Regions from separate parts of the Homo sapiens genome. Here regions 2, 3 and 4 are each linked to region 1. The links come from fine-mapping of genetic effects on gene expression. A gene starts in region 1. Each other region holds a variant in brackets. All regions are shown on one strand. Distances are from middle to middle. Region 1 holds the start of IL18R1 (interleukin 18 receptor 1). Region 2 has its middle 73 kb from the start of IL1R1. Region 3 has its middle 14 kb from the start of IL18RAP. Region 4 has its middle 13 kb from the start of SLC9A4.

Evidence for each region.
Region 2: its variant is fine-mapped to the expression of IL18R1 in transverse colon (GTEx, PIP 0.99).
Region 3: its variant is fine-mapped to the expression of IL18R1 in whole blood (TOPMed, PIP above 0.99).
Region 4: its variant is fine-mapped to the expression of IL18R1 in whole blood (INTERVAL, PIP above 0.99).

What each region holds. Positions count from the first base shown.
Region 1 is chr2:102,353,852-102,358,851 of GRCh38, reverse strand. It overlaps IL18R1 (interleukin 18 receptor 1), which reads right to left and starts at 3,056. Exons shown (of 11, transcript NM_003855.5): 1 at 2,452-3,056. RefSeq lists silencers at 3,002-3,061, 3,082-3,191 and an enhancer at 2,786-3,287.
Region 2 is chr2:102,067,537-102,072,741 of GRCh38, reverse strand. It overlaps a transcript of IL1R1 not described here. Among named protein-coding and RNA genes, the nearest start is that of IL1R1, 73 kb to the left of the region's middle. The variant C/T (reference allele first, on the strand shown) is at 2,097.
Region 3 is chr2:102,406,390-102,411,594 of GRCh38, reverse strand. It overlaps the pseudogene SDR42E1P5. Among named protein-coding and RNA genes, the nearest start is that of IL18RAP, 14 kb to the left of the region's middle. The variant C/T (reference allele first, on the strand shown) is at 2,874.
Region 4 is chr2:102,457,203-102,462,407 of GRCh38, reverse strand. No RefSeq gene overlaps it. Among named protein-coding and RNA genes, the nearest start is that of SLC9A4, 13 kb to the left of the region's middle. The variant T/CCTTT (reference allele first, on the strand shown) is at 2,811.

The sequences.
Region 1 (5,000 bases):
CATCTGATCCATTGGCACATCTGCACAATCTACTTTTGAAATGCTTTTTAACGCATGATATCTTGGAAAGTATGTTTTAGCAACTAATGTGAAGTCTAGGCCACCAGCTCTCACCCAAGTTTGGAAAAAAATAATGATGCCCGGGCTCCACCCAGTGGTCTGGAGGACAGACTGGGCATCTTGAGTCCTCAGAACTCCGCAGGTGACTCTAACATACAGTCAGGAAGAGAGCCGCCGACGTAGGGCACTTATTTGTATTCTCAGGAAAGTACATTTAATACATCTTAAATGCATATATTTGGTGTGTCTAAGACATATTAAATATTTGTGCATGTACATATGTACGTACGTGTGTGTACACACACATAACGAATAGTCACAAACTTACCTAATCACCCAAAGGCATGAAGTTTTCTCTAAATGAAAAAAAAAAGTTTCCTTCAAAAATTGGGTGACCTAGGCTTAAGGTCAGTTCCAAGCTGACCACTCTGTCTCCCAAGGCAGCACAGTAAAAAGCCCTTCCAGAGGGTCCAAACAGTCACCTGAACCCCTGGCTCTGCCCAGTTGCCCTTGTTTATGGGTCCCACCCTGAGAAACTGACCTTTCTCTAAAAGTAATTCACAGAAACACATAATGTACAGGGAAAGAGCCATTTCAAAGCTCTTTCTAATGAGGAACCTGAGATTTGAGGAAGTGAAATGGCCAGCCTCAGATTACAGCTATTCACAAGGACACACATGAATCAATGTAGATGCCTCAATATAAATCACTCATTAGCAACACATACAATCGAGCAACTCCTGAGACAAAATGCCTGGATGAAAATCATAACACCAGTTTTTTTTTAATATAATTTTTCTTCTACAGTGTTCCATGCATAGTCGTTTTACTCAGCCTGTGAGATGATAAAACAACCAAATGCAAAGAGGAGAAAATGATCTTGGGGCATAACATACACACACACACACACGCTTAAACTCTAACAAACAAAATAATTTGTGTGGAATCTGGCTTCTCATCTGTAAGGCCAAGAAAATCAATGCCACCTCATAGTCCTTGTCACACAAGTGTCTGTTGTTAGCCTTATGCTTCCCCCCAAATCTGCCTATGCCTGTGCTACCTGGGCCACCCTCCCCACTTATCCCAGATGCCAGGTCCCTAGAGTCCTTTCAACTTGGCTCAGTATTTGCCTTCTCAAGGAAGCTCTCCAACTGCAACAGCCCCAAATGGCACATGCCTATGTCCAAGCCCGTCTCCATCACTCTGCAGGTGTTTCCATCACTCCTGGACTAGCTCCCACTCTCTGGTGAGGTCCCTGAAGGCAGGGACCCTGCCTTTTCTTTTTTTTCTTTTTTTTTTTTGAGATAGAGTCTCACTCTGTCGCCCAGGCTGGAGTGCAGTGGCACAATCTCTGCTCACTGCAACCTCTGCCTCCCAGGTTCAAGGGATTCTCCTGCCTCAGCCTCCCGAGTAGCTGGGATTACAGATGCATGCCACCATGCCTGGCTAATTTTCTGTATTTTTAGTAGAGACGGGGTTTCACCATGTTAGCCAGGATGGTCTCGATCTCCTGACCTCATGATCCGCCCACCTCAGCCTCCCAAGTGCTGGGATTTAGACCCTGCCTTTTCAATCCACATTCCTAGGCCTTAGCCTTAGTTCTCAGCCTTTGGATGTATATTTGTGCAGGGAGAGGGAAAACACTGTCCCCAGAACCTGCACAAACCCAATTCCCCAAATTTACCCCTCCTAGCCCATCCAAGGCCCTGAGGTTGAGAGGTGTGCTCCCAATAGCAGCACTGTGTATGACACAAAATCAGTATTTGCAAAGGGTCTTGAGAATGAAGCAAGGGAAGTCAGTGAAATGAATACAATAATCTTGGATCTCTGTATCTGGCTGCAATTGACACCTCATTAATTTGTCTGATAACTGCGATGCAAGGTGCTGGGCATTTTAACTTCCCAAGGCTGGGCAGAAAAAAGACAAAGGCTCTGGAATCAGAAAAACTGTAGGTGTGGATCTGGGATCTACTACTTAGTAGCTGGATACTCTTGGGTAAATGACGGAATTCCTCCTCCCTTTTATTAAAGCATAATAATAGTTCCTATTTCATGTGGCCCTTAGGAGGATTAAGTGAAAATAAGATATCTAAAAATTTTCTACAGTGTCAGGCACACAGTAAGCACTTAAAAAATGACAACTATTGTTATCATTTATTTCAGTCGTTCTCACCTCTCCAGAAAATAATTGGGGATGTCTTAATTTCTAAAACTATACTTTCAGAGAAAGACAGGATGCTGTCTCATCAATTATTCACACGTATTCACACACACACTATCTCTCTCTCTCTCTTAATTGATCTTGTTTTGAGAATCCCTCCCCGGATGGTGGTCTTCCCTTCCTCTGGGGGGTGGGGAGGGGATGCGGGTGGCAGCGGAGCCCACCCTTACCTTCAGAGAGGCGTCCCCGAGGCTGGGGCGGGGGCGGCAGCTCCTCCTTCACGCCAGGTCGCGACTGCGGAGGCCAAGTTCAGAAAGTAGGTGAGAAGCAGCGATCTCCGCCTCCTGACTACCGTGGAAAGTGAAAGAGAGGTGTGATTAAAGAGATAAGGCACCCAGAGAGGGCTACAAAAAAAAAAAAAAAGAAGAAGAAGGAAAAAAAGTAGGAACAGAAAGAAGAATGTCAGGCGTCTGGCAGCTCCTGGCTGCTAACCCCGGCCGGTGGAGGCTGCAGGTGGGCACTGCCCGCGGTCGGGCGAAGCTCCGGGTCCGGGAGTGTAGCGGTCTGGGGCGCTCTCAGTCTGGGGCGCTCCCTGGCGTAGAATCCTCCCTGACTCGGAGGTCCCGGTCTGGGGACCCTCCGGTCCGGGTGCTCCTCGCAGCCGTGCTCCAGGACCGGCTCCTCCACCCAGACGCCCCGCGTGGAGTTACCGGAGCTACTGGATCGCGGGGTCCAAAGGTTGCTGCTGGAAAACCCAGCGCCTTGCCCTTTTCCCGCGGACGGCGTGGGCCCCAGGCGTCTGGCGCTTCCTGCCCAGCCGCGCGGCGCGGGTCCCGGGAAAACCCGGGCTGTAGCCGGGTGACCTGCGGGGCCGGAAGGGGGCGCGCCCGGGCCGCTCGCAAGCACCCTGCAGGCCGCGGTTCACAGCAGAGGATGCCAGGAGGGAGGACCGCTGGCCGCAGCGGCCGCCCGGCTCTTCAGAGGAAGAGGAGGGGAGGGCTGAGGGTGGAAGAGGGGTCCCCGGGGGATGCCGAAGGTGAGAGGGGCTCCGCGTCTCAAGTACACAAATGCGCCCCAGGCTTTTTGCTTTCCCAGAAGGATGGGAGTTCACTATAGGGAAGTAATAGAGAGGGGTGCAATTGTTGAAGTTTTAATTTTTTTTAAGGAGGCCAAAGGGGAATGTGTGTTTCTAGATTTTTATTTTGTGGCAGAACTGTTATTTAACCAAAGGAAAAGGGAAACCCATAGCCGACAGGCAAAATGTTCAATTGGACAATGATTTTAATTCTTTTTACCCAATTTAGATAATTCACCACATAATAAATAAAAATATGTAATTATCTCAATAAATGCAAATAAAAGCATCTGGCAAAATTCAACACCCTTTCTGAATTAATAACGATCAGAAAACCGAGAGTAGAAATGATCTTTCTTAATCTGATAAAGAACATCTATAAGAAACCTACAGGTGACCTCATAATAGTGAAACATTTTACTTTTTCCTAAGATTAGTAATGAGATAAGGATTTTGGCTCCCACCTGGGACAACTGCTTTGCAACAAGTGAAGAAATAAAAATAAAATTAGAAAGCATAAAGATTGAGAAGAAAGAATTAAAACTACTGGTTTTAACAGAGAGCATAATTATATGTAGACCAACTTTTGAAATCTACAAAAAAAAAAACTACTGGAAATATTAAGTTTATCAAGATCATGGAATATAAAAATCAATAGCAATTCTATATATTAGAGATGGAAACTTGAAAAGTGAAGTTTGTTAAAAATGCCATTTACCATAGCATTTAAAAATCAAAATACCAAAGTATAAATTCATTGGATAATATATGAGATATCTCCTGTGAAAACTACAAAATATTGCTAACAGAGATGAAACATCTAAGTAATAAAGGGATATACCACGTTTACGGATTGGAAGACTTAAGACATCTATTCTCCACACTGTATATTTTTAGACTCTATATATTACAGAATCTATATATTTAATACAATTCAATCCAAATCCCAGGAAAATTTTTCAAAGAAATTAAGAAGCTGTTTCTAAAATTCATATGAAAATGCAAATAATCTAGGATTGTCCGGACAGAGACGGAGTTTTGCTCTTCTTGCCCAGGCTGGAGTGAGTGCAATGACGCGATCTCGGCTCACTGCAACCTCCGCCTCCCGGGTTCAAGCGATTCTCCTGCCTCAGCCGCCCGAGTAGCTGGGATTACAGGCATGCACTATCACGCCTGGCTACTTTTGTATTTTTAGTAGAGACAGGGTTTCTCCGTGTTGGTCAGGCTGGTTTTGAACTCTCGACCTCAGGTGATCCACCCATTTCAGCCTCCCAAAGTGTTGAAATTACAGGGGTGAGCCACCTGCCCGGCCTGTCTGGGCAATCTTGACAAAGATGAACAAAGTTGAGAGACTTATACTGACTTGAGGATTTATAATAAGGCAATAGTAATTATGGCAATGTGATATTCACAGAAACATACAAACATACAAAATAGAAAGTAGACTAATAGATCCACACATATCTAGTCAATTGATTTTTTTAACAAAGCACCATGTCAATTCAGTGGGGAAAAAACAGTCTTTCACAAACATTGCTGGAACAGCTGGGTACCTCTACAGAAGAAGCAGCAGCAGAAAAAAGAACTTTGTCCTTGCCTTGTTCTATATACAAGTATCAATTCACAATAGACCATGGACCTAAACATAAAAGCTAGAACCGTAAATATTTCATAAAAATACAGAGAAGACCCTTGAACAGGCAA
Region 2 (5,205 bases), 290 kb after region 1:
CTTAGGGAAAAATATTTGCAACATGTATTACCAATCAAGGTTTAATGTTTATAATAAATAAACAATTCTCACAAATCCAAGAGAGAATACTGCAAAAGACATGAATAAACAGTCCACAGAAGAAAAAAGAAAGAAGCAAAAAGCAATAAGCAAAAAGCAAAAAGCCAATAGACGTGAAAAACATGTTCAAGATTACTAATAACCAAAGAAATGTGAATTAAGATAATAGAAAAATGCCATGTTTTGGTAGAGACTAAACGATTTCTAATATTCCAGTAAGTGAGGTATAAGAAACCAGGTACATCTATTACAAGTGTAAACTATTAAAATCTGTTTTGGAGGATAAAGCGCCAAACTTTTAAAACCTATATTCTATTTGGCTTAGCAATATTATTTCTAGTTTATCCTAAACAGATAATTGCCCAAGTAAACAGTGCTATATGTAAAGTGTACGAATTTTTTTCTTTTTTTTTTTTTTTGGTGACACAGAGTCTTGCTCTGTCACCCAGGCTGGAGTGCAATGGCACAATCTCGGCTCACTGCAACCTCCACCTCCCGGGTTCAAGCAGTTCTCCTGCTTCAGCCTCCCTAGTAGCTAGGATTACAGGCACAGGCCACCATGCCCAGCTAATTTTTTTGTATTTTTACTAGAGACGGGGTTTTGCCGTGTCAGCCAGGGTGGTCTCGAACTCCTGACCTCAGCTGATTCCCCCCACTTCGGCCTCCCAAAGTGCTGGGATTACAGGCATAAGCTACCACACCCGGCCAAGTACAATGATTTTACACATTATTTGCAATTTTGAAAAATATGGACCAATTCTAAGGGCCCATTGTGGAGGATGTATAGTCCAGGTGCTTCCTCGGAAGATGGCCCTTGGCAGCCACTGGTCTAGGAGAGGACACCGGCACCATGGGGTTCAACCAGGGTGGATCTCACACCTCCTTCTTGGCACATTAAGGCATGGCATTTCTCCCTCTTCCCTCACAAGAGGTTGTAAAGCCTGGTGCCACTACAAAAACCATTTTGCCACCATAAAGGGAAAGAATCTTCAAACAAAACCAACACACAGAGGAGGGGACATACAGGGAAATGCCAAATATTATGCTAGTAGTATGGAACCCACTCAGAAGCCACTCTTTCTTTGAACTTCAGTTACATGAGATGGTAAATTTATGTAAGCCAGTTTGGGCCACTTTCTGATACTTTCAGCCAAAAGCCACATGATAAAGCCATCACCAGGGAACTGAATAAATACATTATGACACAATCTTACAATAAAATGCCATGCAAGTGATTTATTCAAGAATAAAATACCATGCAATGGATTTTTCAAGAAAGTATGCCCTATATACAGTGCCACAAATAGATGTCCATTAGAAGTCGTTAAGAGAGAAAAGTGTTAAGGAATGATATGTGTGATATCACCCTATTTAGTTAAAAAGGCAAATTGAGCTACAGATAGAGATATAAATTTGATATAAATTAGAATCAGAAGGGAAGAGGGAGCTTTTATTTCTTCCTTTACATACTTCTGATTTTTTGAGGTTTTAAATAAGTATCCCTTACTTTATATATATAAGTATACAAATATATTTCAGCTTTGGACCTCTGAAGTACTCTTGGTAGCATCATTTTAAAAATCATGATATAACACATAATGATGCCTAGTCTTCAAATATCTTAGTGTTTTTTTTTACATAAGATCAATTTACATAACCTTATCCTTATTTAACTTTTAATCCTTTTTGACAGTTCCATGTCTATCTTGAAAAAGAATGTGTCTTAATCTCTAGAAGTAAAAATAAATAAGAGCTACCTCTTAGATACACACCTTCCCCAAGCCACCCCAACCCTCAAGCCTGAGATTCCCACCTAGAAAATAAAGACAGCCATGGTATATCTTCATGAGTGTCATGAGGGAGGGGTGAACACAGGTGTTCAAAGTTTCCAGCACAGGGCCTGGGACAAAATGACTCTTCAGTGGTAGTTTTTGTTGCTATTCAATGTCCTCAGAGTAAAGGGGCCCCTTCTGGAAATTTATTTTTGCTTGGAGGTTCGGTGAACCTTACCCTGGCTTTCTATCTCTTCAAACACC[C/T]TAGAAGCAGAAAGAATTCCATGGGGCCAACTCTGGGCCTTCCCACTCTGAAAACGACACAGTCACAAACTACAGGCCCAAGGAAGCCAGGGCGGGCCCTTTAAAACCTTACCCTCATTGACTCAAGCAGCTTGAGAAGGAGCCTTGGCAGTCCTCTGGCCACTGTAATCATCTTTCACATTAGTCGAGACAAATGCCTTGGAATTTTCCTTAAACTGGGTGTCACCTCCCATTTTTGATATGAAAAGATACAAGTGAAGAGCTGCCAATGGGTGGAGTCTTGGGCCGGGTCCCCGGATACGTCAGGCTACTTTCATTTTCCAGATATGGGAGAAGAGAAAAGTAGGCCAGGCCAGGGCTGCAGTGTCCCCAAGAGGTCAGCAGCTCCAGGCTCTGAGCCTTGCTTCTGGGCTGCCTTCCAGCCCCACTCCATTCCAGTTTGCAGTAATGAATGTTATACACACACTCATACACACACACACACACACACGCACACACACATACACACACACATGCACACTGATTTTTTTTAGGAGCCGTCAATGAAGTTTTAAGTTGTTGACAATTATTGTTGGTCATCAGGCCAGCAATTCTTCTGAGTGAAGTGTTGAACAAGGCTGGGCCTCAGAGCTACACAGATGTATGGCTTCCTGAAAGCCATACATCTGTGTGTGCCTGGGTAACTTGAGAAATAGTACTATGCATGTGATAAGTGTGCCACAAAGACTTAGAAAGATAGAAAACTCCTCACAGATTTTTCACTTAAGGAGGTAATGTCCTCTTGAAAATGTTATTAAGTACAAATTAAACAAATGTTCAAGGTGCACCTACCTGACACACCAGGGGCGCCTGACAAATATTTCTGGAATGACAGAATGATTCTTTGCTCTGTGGTCTGAAGCAAATGACTTGCCTTGGTTGGGTCCCAGTCTCCTTTCTGTGAATAGAGGTAATCACACCTCCTCCATGGGTGGTGAAGGCTGAGGAAAAACGCTTTGTCCAGGAGGGTTGTGCTGCGAATAGGAGAGCAGGTTTGGGGGAGGTGGCTAACCTTGGCACCCACCTGGGCTCGCAGAAGCCAGTGGGAGGTATGAGATAAACTGCCCAGGGACCTCCTCAGCCACCCTTACATCTTATCTGCCCTGTAGCCACGTCCTCCCCTGCAGTCAGGCTGCTTATCAGGGGCTGACACCAGGCGCAGCCAACTTTGTGCTTTGATTCTTGCCAGGTTTCTTCTGTGGAAGGGGTTTCCAGCCCCCGCACCCCCTTAGCCAAAGTTTGCCCTTTAAAGTCAATCTCCGGTCACACATCTCCAGTAAGCCTTCAAACCTCACTCCAGAGCCGACTCTCTCCTCCATCCTCCCCTATGCCTTCTGCCCCCACACTAAGGCAGCAGGTTGCATTCGCCGGGCACTGCCCTGACAGGAGGGCAAGCACAGGATGGAGTCGAGAAACCAGCATAGTCACCAAGCTGATTTTTCAAAATGTGAATCTTAAAAACCTTGACTTTTAAGTCTGCCACTTGAGAGAGAAGAATTTTGGTTTTATTTTTGCTTTTATTTGTTGGAACTCTAGAACATATCCTTATATATCAAGAGCCTGGAGCATAACGTTATGCCATAAACCAGAGAGTTCCTGTTCAAGGGAAGTACACGTTTGAACCAGCACATAACACAATGAACACTGAGGGAAGATGACTAGGGTTGGGGCAGAAATGGAAGTTAGGGAGTAGGGGGCATGAGAAAACGAGGAAATTGTGTTGATTTCCAGGCTCCAGCCAGAGACTGTAAACCTTGGATTGAAGCCCACTCCACGATGGAGCCTGTGGATGGGCAACAAGGGGGTTGGCAGTGGGTAGGGGAGGGAGGGATACCTGGGAAGATGGGCTTGAGGGAAGTCTCAAGGTTCAAATCACCCCAGCAAGCTACAGAAGGGTTTTGGAAAGTTCCTGGGCTATTCCTACAAAGCACGTGCCCCACGGACCCATGCAGGGCCCATGCAGGACACACAGAAATCAACAGCACAAGGTGCAGTGACCAGGTCCATATCACTAAGCAGCTCCAATTGTGGGCAGCAATGAGAGAAGAGAGGAAAAGAAGAAAGGCAAAGAATCTTGAGCTCTTTCAAACCCTTAAGTAACCATATGTAGGACTGAGAGGACCTGAGTGACCCTGAGATGGTGTATTAGTCTGTTCTCACACTGCTCATAAAGACATACCCAAGACTGGGTAATTTATCAAGGAAAGAGGTTTAATGGACTCACAGTTCCACATGGCTGGGGAGGCCTCACAATCATGGCAGAAGGCAAATGAGGAGCAATGTCACATCTTACATGGCTGCCATGGCTTCAGGCAAGAGAGTGTGTGCAGGGGAACTGCCCTTTATAAAACCATCAAATCTCATGAGGCCTATTCACTACCTTGAGAACAGTATCAGGGAGACTGCCCCCATGATTCAGTTATCTCCACCTGGCCTCACCCCTTCACCCCCTTTTTTTTTTTTTTTCTAAGACAGAGTCTCGCTCTGTCACCCAGGCTGGAGTGCAGTGGGCGATCTCAGCTCACTGCAACCTCCGCCTCCCGGGTTCACGCCATTCTCCTGCCTCAGCCTCCCAAATAGCTGGGACTACAGGTGCCTGCCACCACGCCCAGCTAATTTTTTGTATTTTTAGTAGAGACAGGGTTCCACCGTGTTAGCCAGGATGGTCTCGATCTCCTGACCTCGTGATCTGCCCACCTCGGCCTCCCAAAGTGCTGGGATTACAGGCGTGAGCCACCGTGCCCGGCCTGGCCTCACCCTTGACAAGTGGGAATTATTAAAATTCAAGGTGAGAGTTGGGTGGGGACACATTCAAACCATACCAGCTGGAAAAAACTGAATTTTTCCACCATAAGCAGAAGTAGGGATTCATGAGCTAAGTTAAGATCAATTATAGAGAAAGAAAGTCCCATTTTGGTGTAATTATGACTAAATGTCACACTGCTATCTTCATGCTGGCCCCTTACCTTCCCTGGATGACCAGCCATCCTAGTTTGCCCAAGATAGTCCTGGTTTTAGGATTGAATGTCCTGCAGCCCAAGAGATCCCTCAGGCCTGGGCACACTGGGAT
Region 3 (5,205 bases), 53 kb before region 1:
TTCTTCTCTGGCACCCCCCTCCTCTGGCAAACCTGGAGGATGTTGTCTGTACTCCCAATGCTGACCTCTTTGATCAGGTTTTGATTTAGTTGCTCCTTCCCTGACAAACCATAAGAGGCAATATGGAACACACATGTGACATCTGTGTCAAGGCTTTCTCTATGTCAGAGAGGTGGCGGATGTCTCCATGTACAAACTTGATTCCTTCTGGAATGGTTTGAGCAGGACTGCTGATGTCAAATAGAATTACGTGGACTCCCTTTTGGTTCAGAGCATGGCCCAGGTGGAAACCAAAATAGCCACCTCCTCCTGTAATGAGGAAAGTTTCCTTTGGAGATCTTTGGGGGTCCATATGTGGCAGTCAAAAGACAACTGGACAGCAGCAGGAAGAAGGGCGTGGCCTTCAGACTGAAGAAGGCCGGCTGGCCCAGGCCTTGGGAGCCACCTGCTGCCTCTACTTGGGCACTGGAGCCCTCAGACTGGCCTCTGGTAAGTTATTTTAATTATGTTCTATTCACAGATAAGGTCTTACTCTTTCCAGCATAGTTAAAGGGGTGGGCAATTCCATATGTCCACAAGCCTTCCCAAATTGTAAAGTATACAAATCAAATGGTTCTCAAAAGCTAAAAAAGTAGTTTATAACCTTAAAACATTTAGCAAACCTAGTATCTGACCCACATAATTTAGACCATATATTTACATATGAAGACATTTGCACTTTACCAATTATCTTTAAAACTGTTTTTATGTTTCAAAGATTAAAGTCACATGAACTAAAAGGCATTACAGCTTTTATTTCTCCTTGAAAAATATTTGATCTAAGTGTTTATTTTTCTTTAGGTCAATGAATTAGAGCTGTTTTATATAACCATCACACACATAACACATATGATTACACAGACAGACAGAAGAAGATCCAGTAGTTGTAAGATTTTTCATTTGGAGCCGAGCACAGTGGCTCATGCCTGTAATCCCAGCACTTTGGGAGGCCAAGGTGGGCAGATCACTTGAGGTCAGAAGTTCGAGACCAGCCTGGCCAACATGGTGAAACCCCATCTCTACTAAAAATACAAAAATTAGCTGGGTGTTTTGGTGTGCACCTGTAATCCCAGCTACTCGGGGGGCTGAGACAGGAGAATCGCTTGAACCCGGGAGGCAGAGGTTGCAGTGAGCAGAGACTGCAGCATTGCACTCTAGCCTGGGTGACAGAGCAAGATGCTGTTTCAAAAACAAAAAAAGATTTTTTCATTTGCCTATCTCCTAATTGGGTCATTGGCCTCAGGGTGGAGTCCTTCAAGAAGCAGGGCTAGGAAAGCATGCAGTTTTCAGGGCCCAAGAAACAGGCATAGCTGGAAAACAAAAACAGATTTTGGGAGGGACCTATCTGTTTTTAATTTCGGGGTTCCATAAGGAAAACAGAGCTTTCTTCCCAAAATGGGGTCTCTAGCACCTTCTCTGTTTTTCCCAAGGAGTCCCATGCTCTCACAAGTTATCTTAGGGCCTCTCATGCGTGCACCGAGAATGGCAAGACTAAATGGAAAAAAATAATTCAGTTGACTGAGAAAAAGCCTTTTTCCAGAAAAACAAGATCCAAGGAAAAAAAAAAGGCCTTTTAAATATACCAATACCTTGGATATCCACTTTTAATTAAGCTGAGCACTCTTTAAGAAAGTCTTTTTAAGTCCCCTGTTAACCGACTTTAGCCAGGCCACGCGGCCAATATTTCTGGCTTTTGAACTTTATGGAAAGTAACCTCACAGATGAAACCAACAAGCCTCAACTAAGGTTATGACTTAACTGTGAGTGTATGAGGTATTTTCAAAGTAGTGGTAAGCAGTTTTTACAAAATCTGGAATCTTTAAAGGTGACTCTGAGAAAGGAAGATTTAAGAAAGGAAGCTAGAAGTTGTTCACAGAGGGGAAGAAAATCAGCAAATGGTAAAAGTCACACGATATTAACCAGAAAGTACTCATTCCCTAAGCCAGAATTGAACCCAGGCTGCCGTTATAAAATGGCAGAGACCAAAACAAAGTATTGCCACATGGTTACAATGTCAAACTCCCAAGAACATAAAACAAGATGGAGACCCGAAGCTGGTTGCTGACCATTTGCCTGGCTGGCTTGAACAGTAGGCTTATGGGGTCCTAGGCCCATATTCTATCCTAAGGTACTCCTCTTCATGCAGAACCATATAGAAAGTCACGCCAAGCACACCAGATTGGTTACAGCTTAAGACTGGCCTCATAAATTCTTTTTTCCATTAATCCAAACTTCACAGAGGATATAAACAGTGATTTTATCATCCATTCAATCATTTGTACAGGGAGAGGGAAGCCAGAAATCCGACTGGTAAAAACTTTTATCCTTTTGCCGGCATGTCAGACTTCTGGGTTCCCTTCCCCTGAGCTCGGTTTTAAGCCAAGCAGCTTAAGGTTTGGGGTAATTAAGTTTTCCCTGTTTGGGGGGTGCACCCAAGGGGAGTGTCCTGTGGTATGGGGACACAATTACCCATCTGTGAAGAGAGGACAGAGGAGGCAAAAGGGGAAAGAAGGCTTTTTCTTTTTTCCTCAAAGGAATCCCAGTGATTCAGGAGGCATTTGAGAGAAACACACGCTGAAGATGATTGGTTACCCATCTAGAAAGAAGGGAAAAAGGCATCCTTAGTTTCTTTATCTTCCCAGCAAATACCTGGGGTATGTGAGGGAGAGAAAGAAGCATCCCCTTTTCTTTCTTCCATCCTTATATTCCCAAGTCCTAGTGACCTCAGCAGGGTGCAACCCGTGGGTGCCAATGCAGCTTTTCACCCATGTTAACAGGGGGCCTGGGAGTGGGAACTGTCCGCATTTACCTACGCGCTGCCTTTCCCCTGCTGT[C/T]GGTAACCTTTGAGTTCCCTAGATCTTGTCTATGCCATGGATGCGAGCCTGACCTCCAACCATAAAGCGGGAAGGCCTAATTGGCTTGAATTAGTCATGCTTGGGGGCAGGAAGATGCCACCAGGCATGGGTGGAGAGAGGCCATGACTTTAGTCTCATACTTATGTCTCTCTGGGCCTGATAAACTTTGCATACCTCACATGGCTCATGCTGCTCTGAACTCTTTTTCTTTTCTCACTGGGAACTGTCATCTTACAGATGAATATGAGATGATTTTTGTCCTTCAAGGGTTAACAGTTGAGTTGAGGGAGCAGAATCTCTAAAGGTCACTTCTTATACTGTAATGCTAGACAAAGATACACAGCAGAACACAGGAGAGGAGCTCTTAGCCAACCTGAGGACTGAAGGATGGCTTCTCGAGATAATTCACTGAATTTTCATTAATTTTTTTTAAACCTTACGTGTAGATGGTGAAGGCGATGAGCTCTAATATTTTCACGCTCTTCTCTAGACTTTCAATCATCTGTCCCCCACAACCTGCTGCTTGAGTCTCCCCTCAGGACATAGTTTCTCTAGCAGCTCACTTACATGGTGGTTGTTTTCCCTCCCAGACTCCAGGTACCATTGGTTTCCAGCCACTGTACCTCCCTCCTCCCTAAGAACCCCCAGCTTCAAATATCATGTCCTTGGGCTATCCCACCCAGTATCCCTACTTGTTGCAGTCATCCACAAAGCCCTGGGACACTCTGCTTTATTCCCTGAAGAGTTTAGTTCTGGGCTTACTCTTACTCTTCAGAACTCTTCCTGCTTTGATTCTTGGTATTAGCATTGATATAGATGATCCGTTTAACGTCCCCGTCTCTCAGTTCTTTGACTTCCTCTCCTCTAAAGCTCTTGTATTCCATCCTTACTTCACTATTTATTCCTGTAATCATAACCTAGACTTGTCATTGCTAATAATTGCTATGCCTCTATATTCCCAATTGAAAGCAACCCACTCCCTTGGCAATTACCTCCTGTCACCCAACTTACTTTCCAAAATATTCAAATTCCAGCACTCATTTAGTAACAAAAGAAATTTACACTGATCCTATCAAATTTTCAATGATCCCCTTCTTGCATTTTCCAAATTAAATTCTATTATTATTCATTATCAGTCCTTGAATAGTACAAAAAATTATTTGTATTCATTTAGTTAAATTTCTTTATATCTTTCATTAATATTTTTTTAAATTCTCCACTAGAAATGTATTTCTAGTGGAAAATTAATGCATTCTCACATTAATGCATTTTCAATGCATTCAACACATTAGGAAATCTCCTTCCTAAAGACCATCTACCTAGAACTTGCTCTTCTGCTTAAATATGGCAAATGCACAATTTCCAGCATTGGATTTCCATTTATCATCAGTCTGGAGATCTGGAGATGCCTTCCACCATTTTCCTTAGCTGGATTCCATTTCCCTGAAGCCCAAAGTACTATATGTTCCCTTTATGGAGGACCGCTTCTTCCAGGAGATCTCAGACAAAGGGACATGGCAGGAAATATCTTGAGGCCTTACTTGTCTGAAAATATCTATTTTACCCTCATATTTGAATAATTGTTTGACTCAGTAGAGAAATTTAGGCAATACATAATATTTTCTTCCAAAATGTTAAGGCAGTTCTGTCTCCATTTTGCTGAGTAATTAATTGGTGGGCTCTTTCAATCTGGAGCTTCATATCATTCTATTTTGAGATGCTTTCTTATTTCCAAAAATGTTATTAGACTAATTTGCAAATTCTTCTATTTTTTCTCTATTTTCATTTATTTAGCTCCTTGTTTTACATTCTGGGTAACACTTCATTATCCTCCAACCCTGATATTGTCTTTTCCACTTTAGCTAATTCATTTCTAATTTCCAACTCATCTTTATTATGCTCTGATGTAATATCTTTTCTTGTCTCTCTGAAAATATTAAAGTTTGTTCTTTAAATATGTTTTTCCTTTGGCTTATCTCTGTTATCTCCAAGTTCCATTTTGTTATTTGTTAATCATGGCCTTTCATAGTAAAGGATTTTCTTAAATATGTAAGGATTTTTCACTGTCTACTAATATTTAATAATGGGATGCTATGGCAAAGGTTTTGCACACATACACACAACTACAGACAAATCTTACTTAGAAGTATATATACAAAGTTCTAAATAAAATATTAGCACATAAAATACATATTTTTAAAATTCATTAGGATTGCATAACTGCAAAGTTGGTTTGATATTATGAAAACATTAACATTCTCTATGGAATATGAATGGTCTATATGGTCTAAAACTATATGGTCACCTCCAA
Region 4 (5,205 bases), 100 kb before region 1:
GGGAGCAATGGTGGGGAAAGTGGGCATCCAATTCCCCATGAACCAGGTGAATGCTGTGCAGAATAACCAGGTTAGAGTCACATTGGAAGAATGGACCATTAGGGGCTTTACTGCATGGGGCAGAAGACGAGGTGGAGACAGAGAAGGTATCACCTTCATCAGGTGCACCAGGAGCAGTGGACATCTTGGTAGGGTTAGGGAGAATGGGTTTACATTTTTATTTTTAAATTAACATACAATAAAATTAGCTTGTTTGATTTACAGTTGTGTGCATTTAAATACGGATGTAAATTCACATAATCACCAAGACAATCAGGTTACATGCTCTTTCTTTGAGACCCGCCCTCCTCCATCCCTAACTCCTGGAAACCAATAATCTGTTCTGTCACTGTTTTGACTTTTTGAAAATGTCATAGAAATGGAATCATGTAACCTTTAGAGATAAGCTTTTTCTACCCAGCATACTGCATTGAGATTTATCCAAGCTGGTGCATGTCTCAGTGGTGAATTCCTTTGTATTGCTGAGAAGTATTTCATGGTTTGCTTGTACAACTATTTGTTAATTAATTCACCCTATACCAGTTATCAATTTATCACCAGTTATCAATGTATTACCTCACAGCTCTGAATTCACCATTCAGTACCTGCTGTGTGTAATGGATTGAATTTTTGAAGCATTCATCCTATACAGTGAGCATAGTATTCACCTCTTTGGTACAGGGAGTTGGACAAGCATTACAGGAGGGTCCGTCTGGTTCCAGCTGCTGTGTTCTGTTTTTTTTTCTCACTTGTGCTGCACCATCAGGCAGCAGTGTGTGTGTGTAGACATCTGTTGGTGCTCTGCACTAGCTATATCCAGAGGAAGCCGTTGCTCAGTGACCTCGCAGTACTAGCTTAGGCCAGGTGACCACCTCCCAATATCTTCCTGATGTGGACACTGTGCACTCCAGGCCGCATGCCCACAGTGGCATTCTGAATGCCCTGTGTACCCGCATATCAACTACAGCTCGCCTGCATCCTAAAGCAGTCATGGCCTGGCCATGCTGCATGTCTGCCCACCAGCCATGGCTTGACTGCACCTGACAGGTTTGCTTCCAGCTTTCCCAGCAACTGTGAACTAGCTCTGACCCAGGCACGTAAGAGACCTTCCTTGCCATTCAGTGGGCTACACCACACTGCTTCTAGTGATGTCTGAACCCCAGTCTTGGGGAGGGGACCACTTGCAACTTTGTCTTTCTACTATCTCTCAGCCCTGAGATACTCTTTGGAGTTCTATTCATGTCCTTATAATCAGTCTCTCATCACAGCCAAATAATCATTTATATCATAATATCCCTTTTTAAATTACTACATGATTTCTGTCTTTTGATTGGACTTTAGCTGACACATACTGGTTGAAAGTCCTTGAGTTTTTCTAGGTATTAGTTATTATGAGTAGAGCCACAATAAACATTTGTGTATTGGATTTTGTGTGAACGTAAGTTTTTATTTCTCTGGGGTAAATATCTACAAGTAGGATGTTTTGGGCATCTAGTAAGGAAGTCACATTATAAGGACTTGTTAAATTGTTTTGTAGGGTGGCTGCACTATTTTGCACTCTCACCAGTAGTATATGAGAGTTCTAGTTTCTCTACATCATCACCATTTCGTGTTGTTAGGTTTCTTTTCTTTTTCTCTATGTGCCCCATGGTGTGTGTGTGTGTGTGTTTTCTCCTTGTGGCTTTAATTTCCATTTTCCCAGTGGATGGTGCTGTTGCACATCTTTTTATGTGCCTGTTTGCCATCTGTCTGTCCTCTTTAGCAAAATGTCTATTCAAGTTTTTGCTCCTTTTTTAATTGGTAGCTACTTGTTATTATTGAGTTTAGAGAAATCTTTATAAACTCTCAGCACAAGTCCTTTATTGGACTTGTGATTTTGAAATAATTTTTGTCAATTTAAAGCTTGTTTTTTTTTTTCATCCTTTTAGCAGTGGTTTTCTCGGAAAAAGTGGTTTTAACTTTGTTAAACTCCAACTTTTTTTTTCTCTACGGATCATGCTTTTGGTGTTACATCTAAGAACTCTTTTTCTAATCCTAGGTCATGTTTTCTTCTAACAGTTTTATAGATTTAGGCTTTACATTGAGATCTATGGCCTATTACAAGTTAATTTTGTATAAGCTGTGAGCTTCATCTTATTGCATATGTATGTCCAATTGATGCAAAACCATTTGTTTAAAACTCTATTCTTTATTGAATTGCCTTTGAAAATTTGTCAAAATCAATAGGCCATATTTGTGTGGATGTATTTCTAGACTTTCTACTCAGTTCCATTGATCTATTGCTTTGTTAATATCACACCATTTTGGTTGCTGTAACTTTTTATTGATTCATAAAATCGTCTAGCATGACTCCTCCAACTTTATTTTCTTTTCCAAATAGCTTTGGTTTTTCTAGTTTATTCGCTTTCCCACATATATTTTAGAATTAGTTTGCCTATAATCTACAAAAAATTCTGCTGGAATATCAGTTGGAATTGCGTTAAACCTCTTAATCAATGTAAAGGGGATTGTTGATTTGACAATATGTTGAATCTTTGTATCACCAAACATGCTATGCTTCTCTCTTTATTTAATTGTTCTTTAATTTTGCTCATAAGTATTTCATAGTTTTTAGCTTATGGAACATCCACACATTCTGTTCATTTATACATGAATCTCCCTCCCTCCCTCCCTCCCTCTCTTTCTTTCTTTCTTTCTTTCTTTCTTTCTTTCTTTCTTTCTCTCTTTCTTTCTTTCTTTCTTTCTCTTTCTTCCTTTCTCTTTCCTTCCTT[T/CCTTT]CTTTCTTTTTTCTCTCTTTCTTTCTCTCTTATTTCTTTCTCTTTCTTCCTTTCCTTCCCTATCCTTCCTTCTTTCCTTCCTTTCCTCTTTCTTTTTTGACCTATTATAAATGGTAATGTCTGTAACATCTGGTTTTCAATTGTTTCTTAATAGAGATAGAAATACATTTGATTTTTACGTTGTTAATCATGTATCCTAAGAACTTGCTAAACTCACTTATCAGTTCTAGGAATATTTTTATAGCTTTCTTGGATATTCTACATAGAAAATTACTTTTTAGAAAAAAAGGAGAGATTGTTTCTTTCTTTCCAAACTGCATGCATGTTATTTCTTTTCCTCGTCTTATTGCACTGGTGAAAACTTTCATACAAGGTTGTATAGTATTCTGCGAGTAAGTATCCTTGCCTTGCTTCCCATCTTATAGAGAAAACATACATACAGTCTTTCACCATTTAGTATGATTTTTTCATCTATAGTTTGTTTGTTGTTGTTTTTAGAGCCCCTTATCATGATGAGAAAATTCCCTTCTATGCCTAGTTTGCTGAGAGGTTTTATGACGAGACGATGGTGAATTTTGTCAAATATATTTTTGGAATTGGTTCATATGATCATGTCTTTGTTCTTCCTTACACTGTTAATATAAAGAATTACACTGAAATATTTTAAAATATGAAGCCTGCCCTGAATACCCATGATAAGCTCCACTTGGTTGTGATGCATTATTCTATTTATATATTACTAGGTTCAATTTGCTAATATTTTCTTGAGTATTTTTGTGTCAATGTTCATGAAGAATGTTGGTCTATAGTTGTCTTATAATTTTTTTTGTTTGGTTTTGGTATTAGAAAAATTCTGGACTCATAATAATTTGCATAACTTAGGAAATGTTCCTTCTTCTGTTTTCTGAAAAAAATTGTGTAGGATTCACATTTTTTTTTTCCTTTAAATGTTTGATAGAATTAGGCAGTGAAACCATCGGGGTCTGAAGATTTTATTTTTGGAAATTTAATAATAGGAATTAATTTTTTTAACAGTTATGACCAATTAGGTTATTTATTTAATATTGGATAAGTATTTTTAGCTTGTGGTTTTTGAGCATTTATCCATTTCATTTAGGTTGTCAAATATGTATTTATACAGTATCCATAACATTTCCTTATTCGTTTAAGATGTGCAGGATCTGTATTGATATCTCTTATCTCACTACTAATACTGGTAATTTGTGTCTTCCTTCTTCTTCTTTTTTTTTTGGTCAGTCTTGCTAGGAGTTTTTCAGTTTTATTGATGCTCTCGAAGAACCAGGTTCCTGTACTATTGATTTTCTTTATTGTTTTATGTTATTCAATGGCAGTGGTTTCTGCTCTCAAATTTATTATTTTTTTTTGGCTTCCTAAGGTGGAAGTTTAGATTATTAATTTATATATTTTCCTCTTTTAACATAAGTATTTAATATTATATACTTGCCCTTAAGCATGGCTTTAGTCTCATCTTGCAAATTTTGATATGTTGCATTTTCATTTCCATTCATTTGAAAATATCATTTCATTTGCTTTGAGACTTCCATTTTTATCCATAGATTATTGAGAAATGTGTCACTTAATTTCCAAATGTTTTGAGATTTTTCCCACCATCTTTCTCTTAATAATCTCTAGTCTGAATTCATTATAAATCCATTATAAATACAGAATATAACTTTGTACAATTTCAATTTCTAAATTCTTGTTATTGTTTGTTTTACAATCTAGGATACGGTATATCTTAGCACATGGTCGGTGTGTACATCAAAAGATTGTGTATTCTGCAATCATTGGGTGGAACATTCTATAAATGTCAAGTAGATCTAGAAAACAACAATTAAGTAGTGTTGTTCTATATTCTTCTTCTTTTTTTTTCTGAGACGGAGTCTCACTCTGTCACCCAGGCTGGAGTGCAATGGCACGATCCGGCTCACTGCAACCTCTGCTTCCTGGGTTCAGGAGATTCTCCTGCCTCAGCCTCCTGAGTAGCTGGGATTACAAGCACGCGCCACCATGCCTGGCTAATTTTTTGTATTTTTAGTAGAGACGGGGTTTCACCGTGCTGGGCAGGCTGATCTCAAGCTCCTGACCTCGTGATCCGCCCAACTCGGCCTCCCAAAGTGCTGGGATTACAGGCATGAGCCACCACGCGCAGCCTATATTCTTGATAAATTTCTGTTTACCATTTTATCAATACTTGAGAATAATATTCAAGTCTCCAACTACAGTCGTGGATTTGTCTATTTCTTCTTTTAGTTCTGTCAGTTTTGCTTCATGTATTTTGAAGCACTGCTGTTAGGTGCATACACATTTAATTAAGACTGTTATGTCCTGTTGGTAAATTTGTCCTTTTATCATAATGTAATATCTGTTTTTC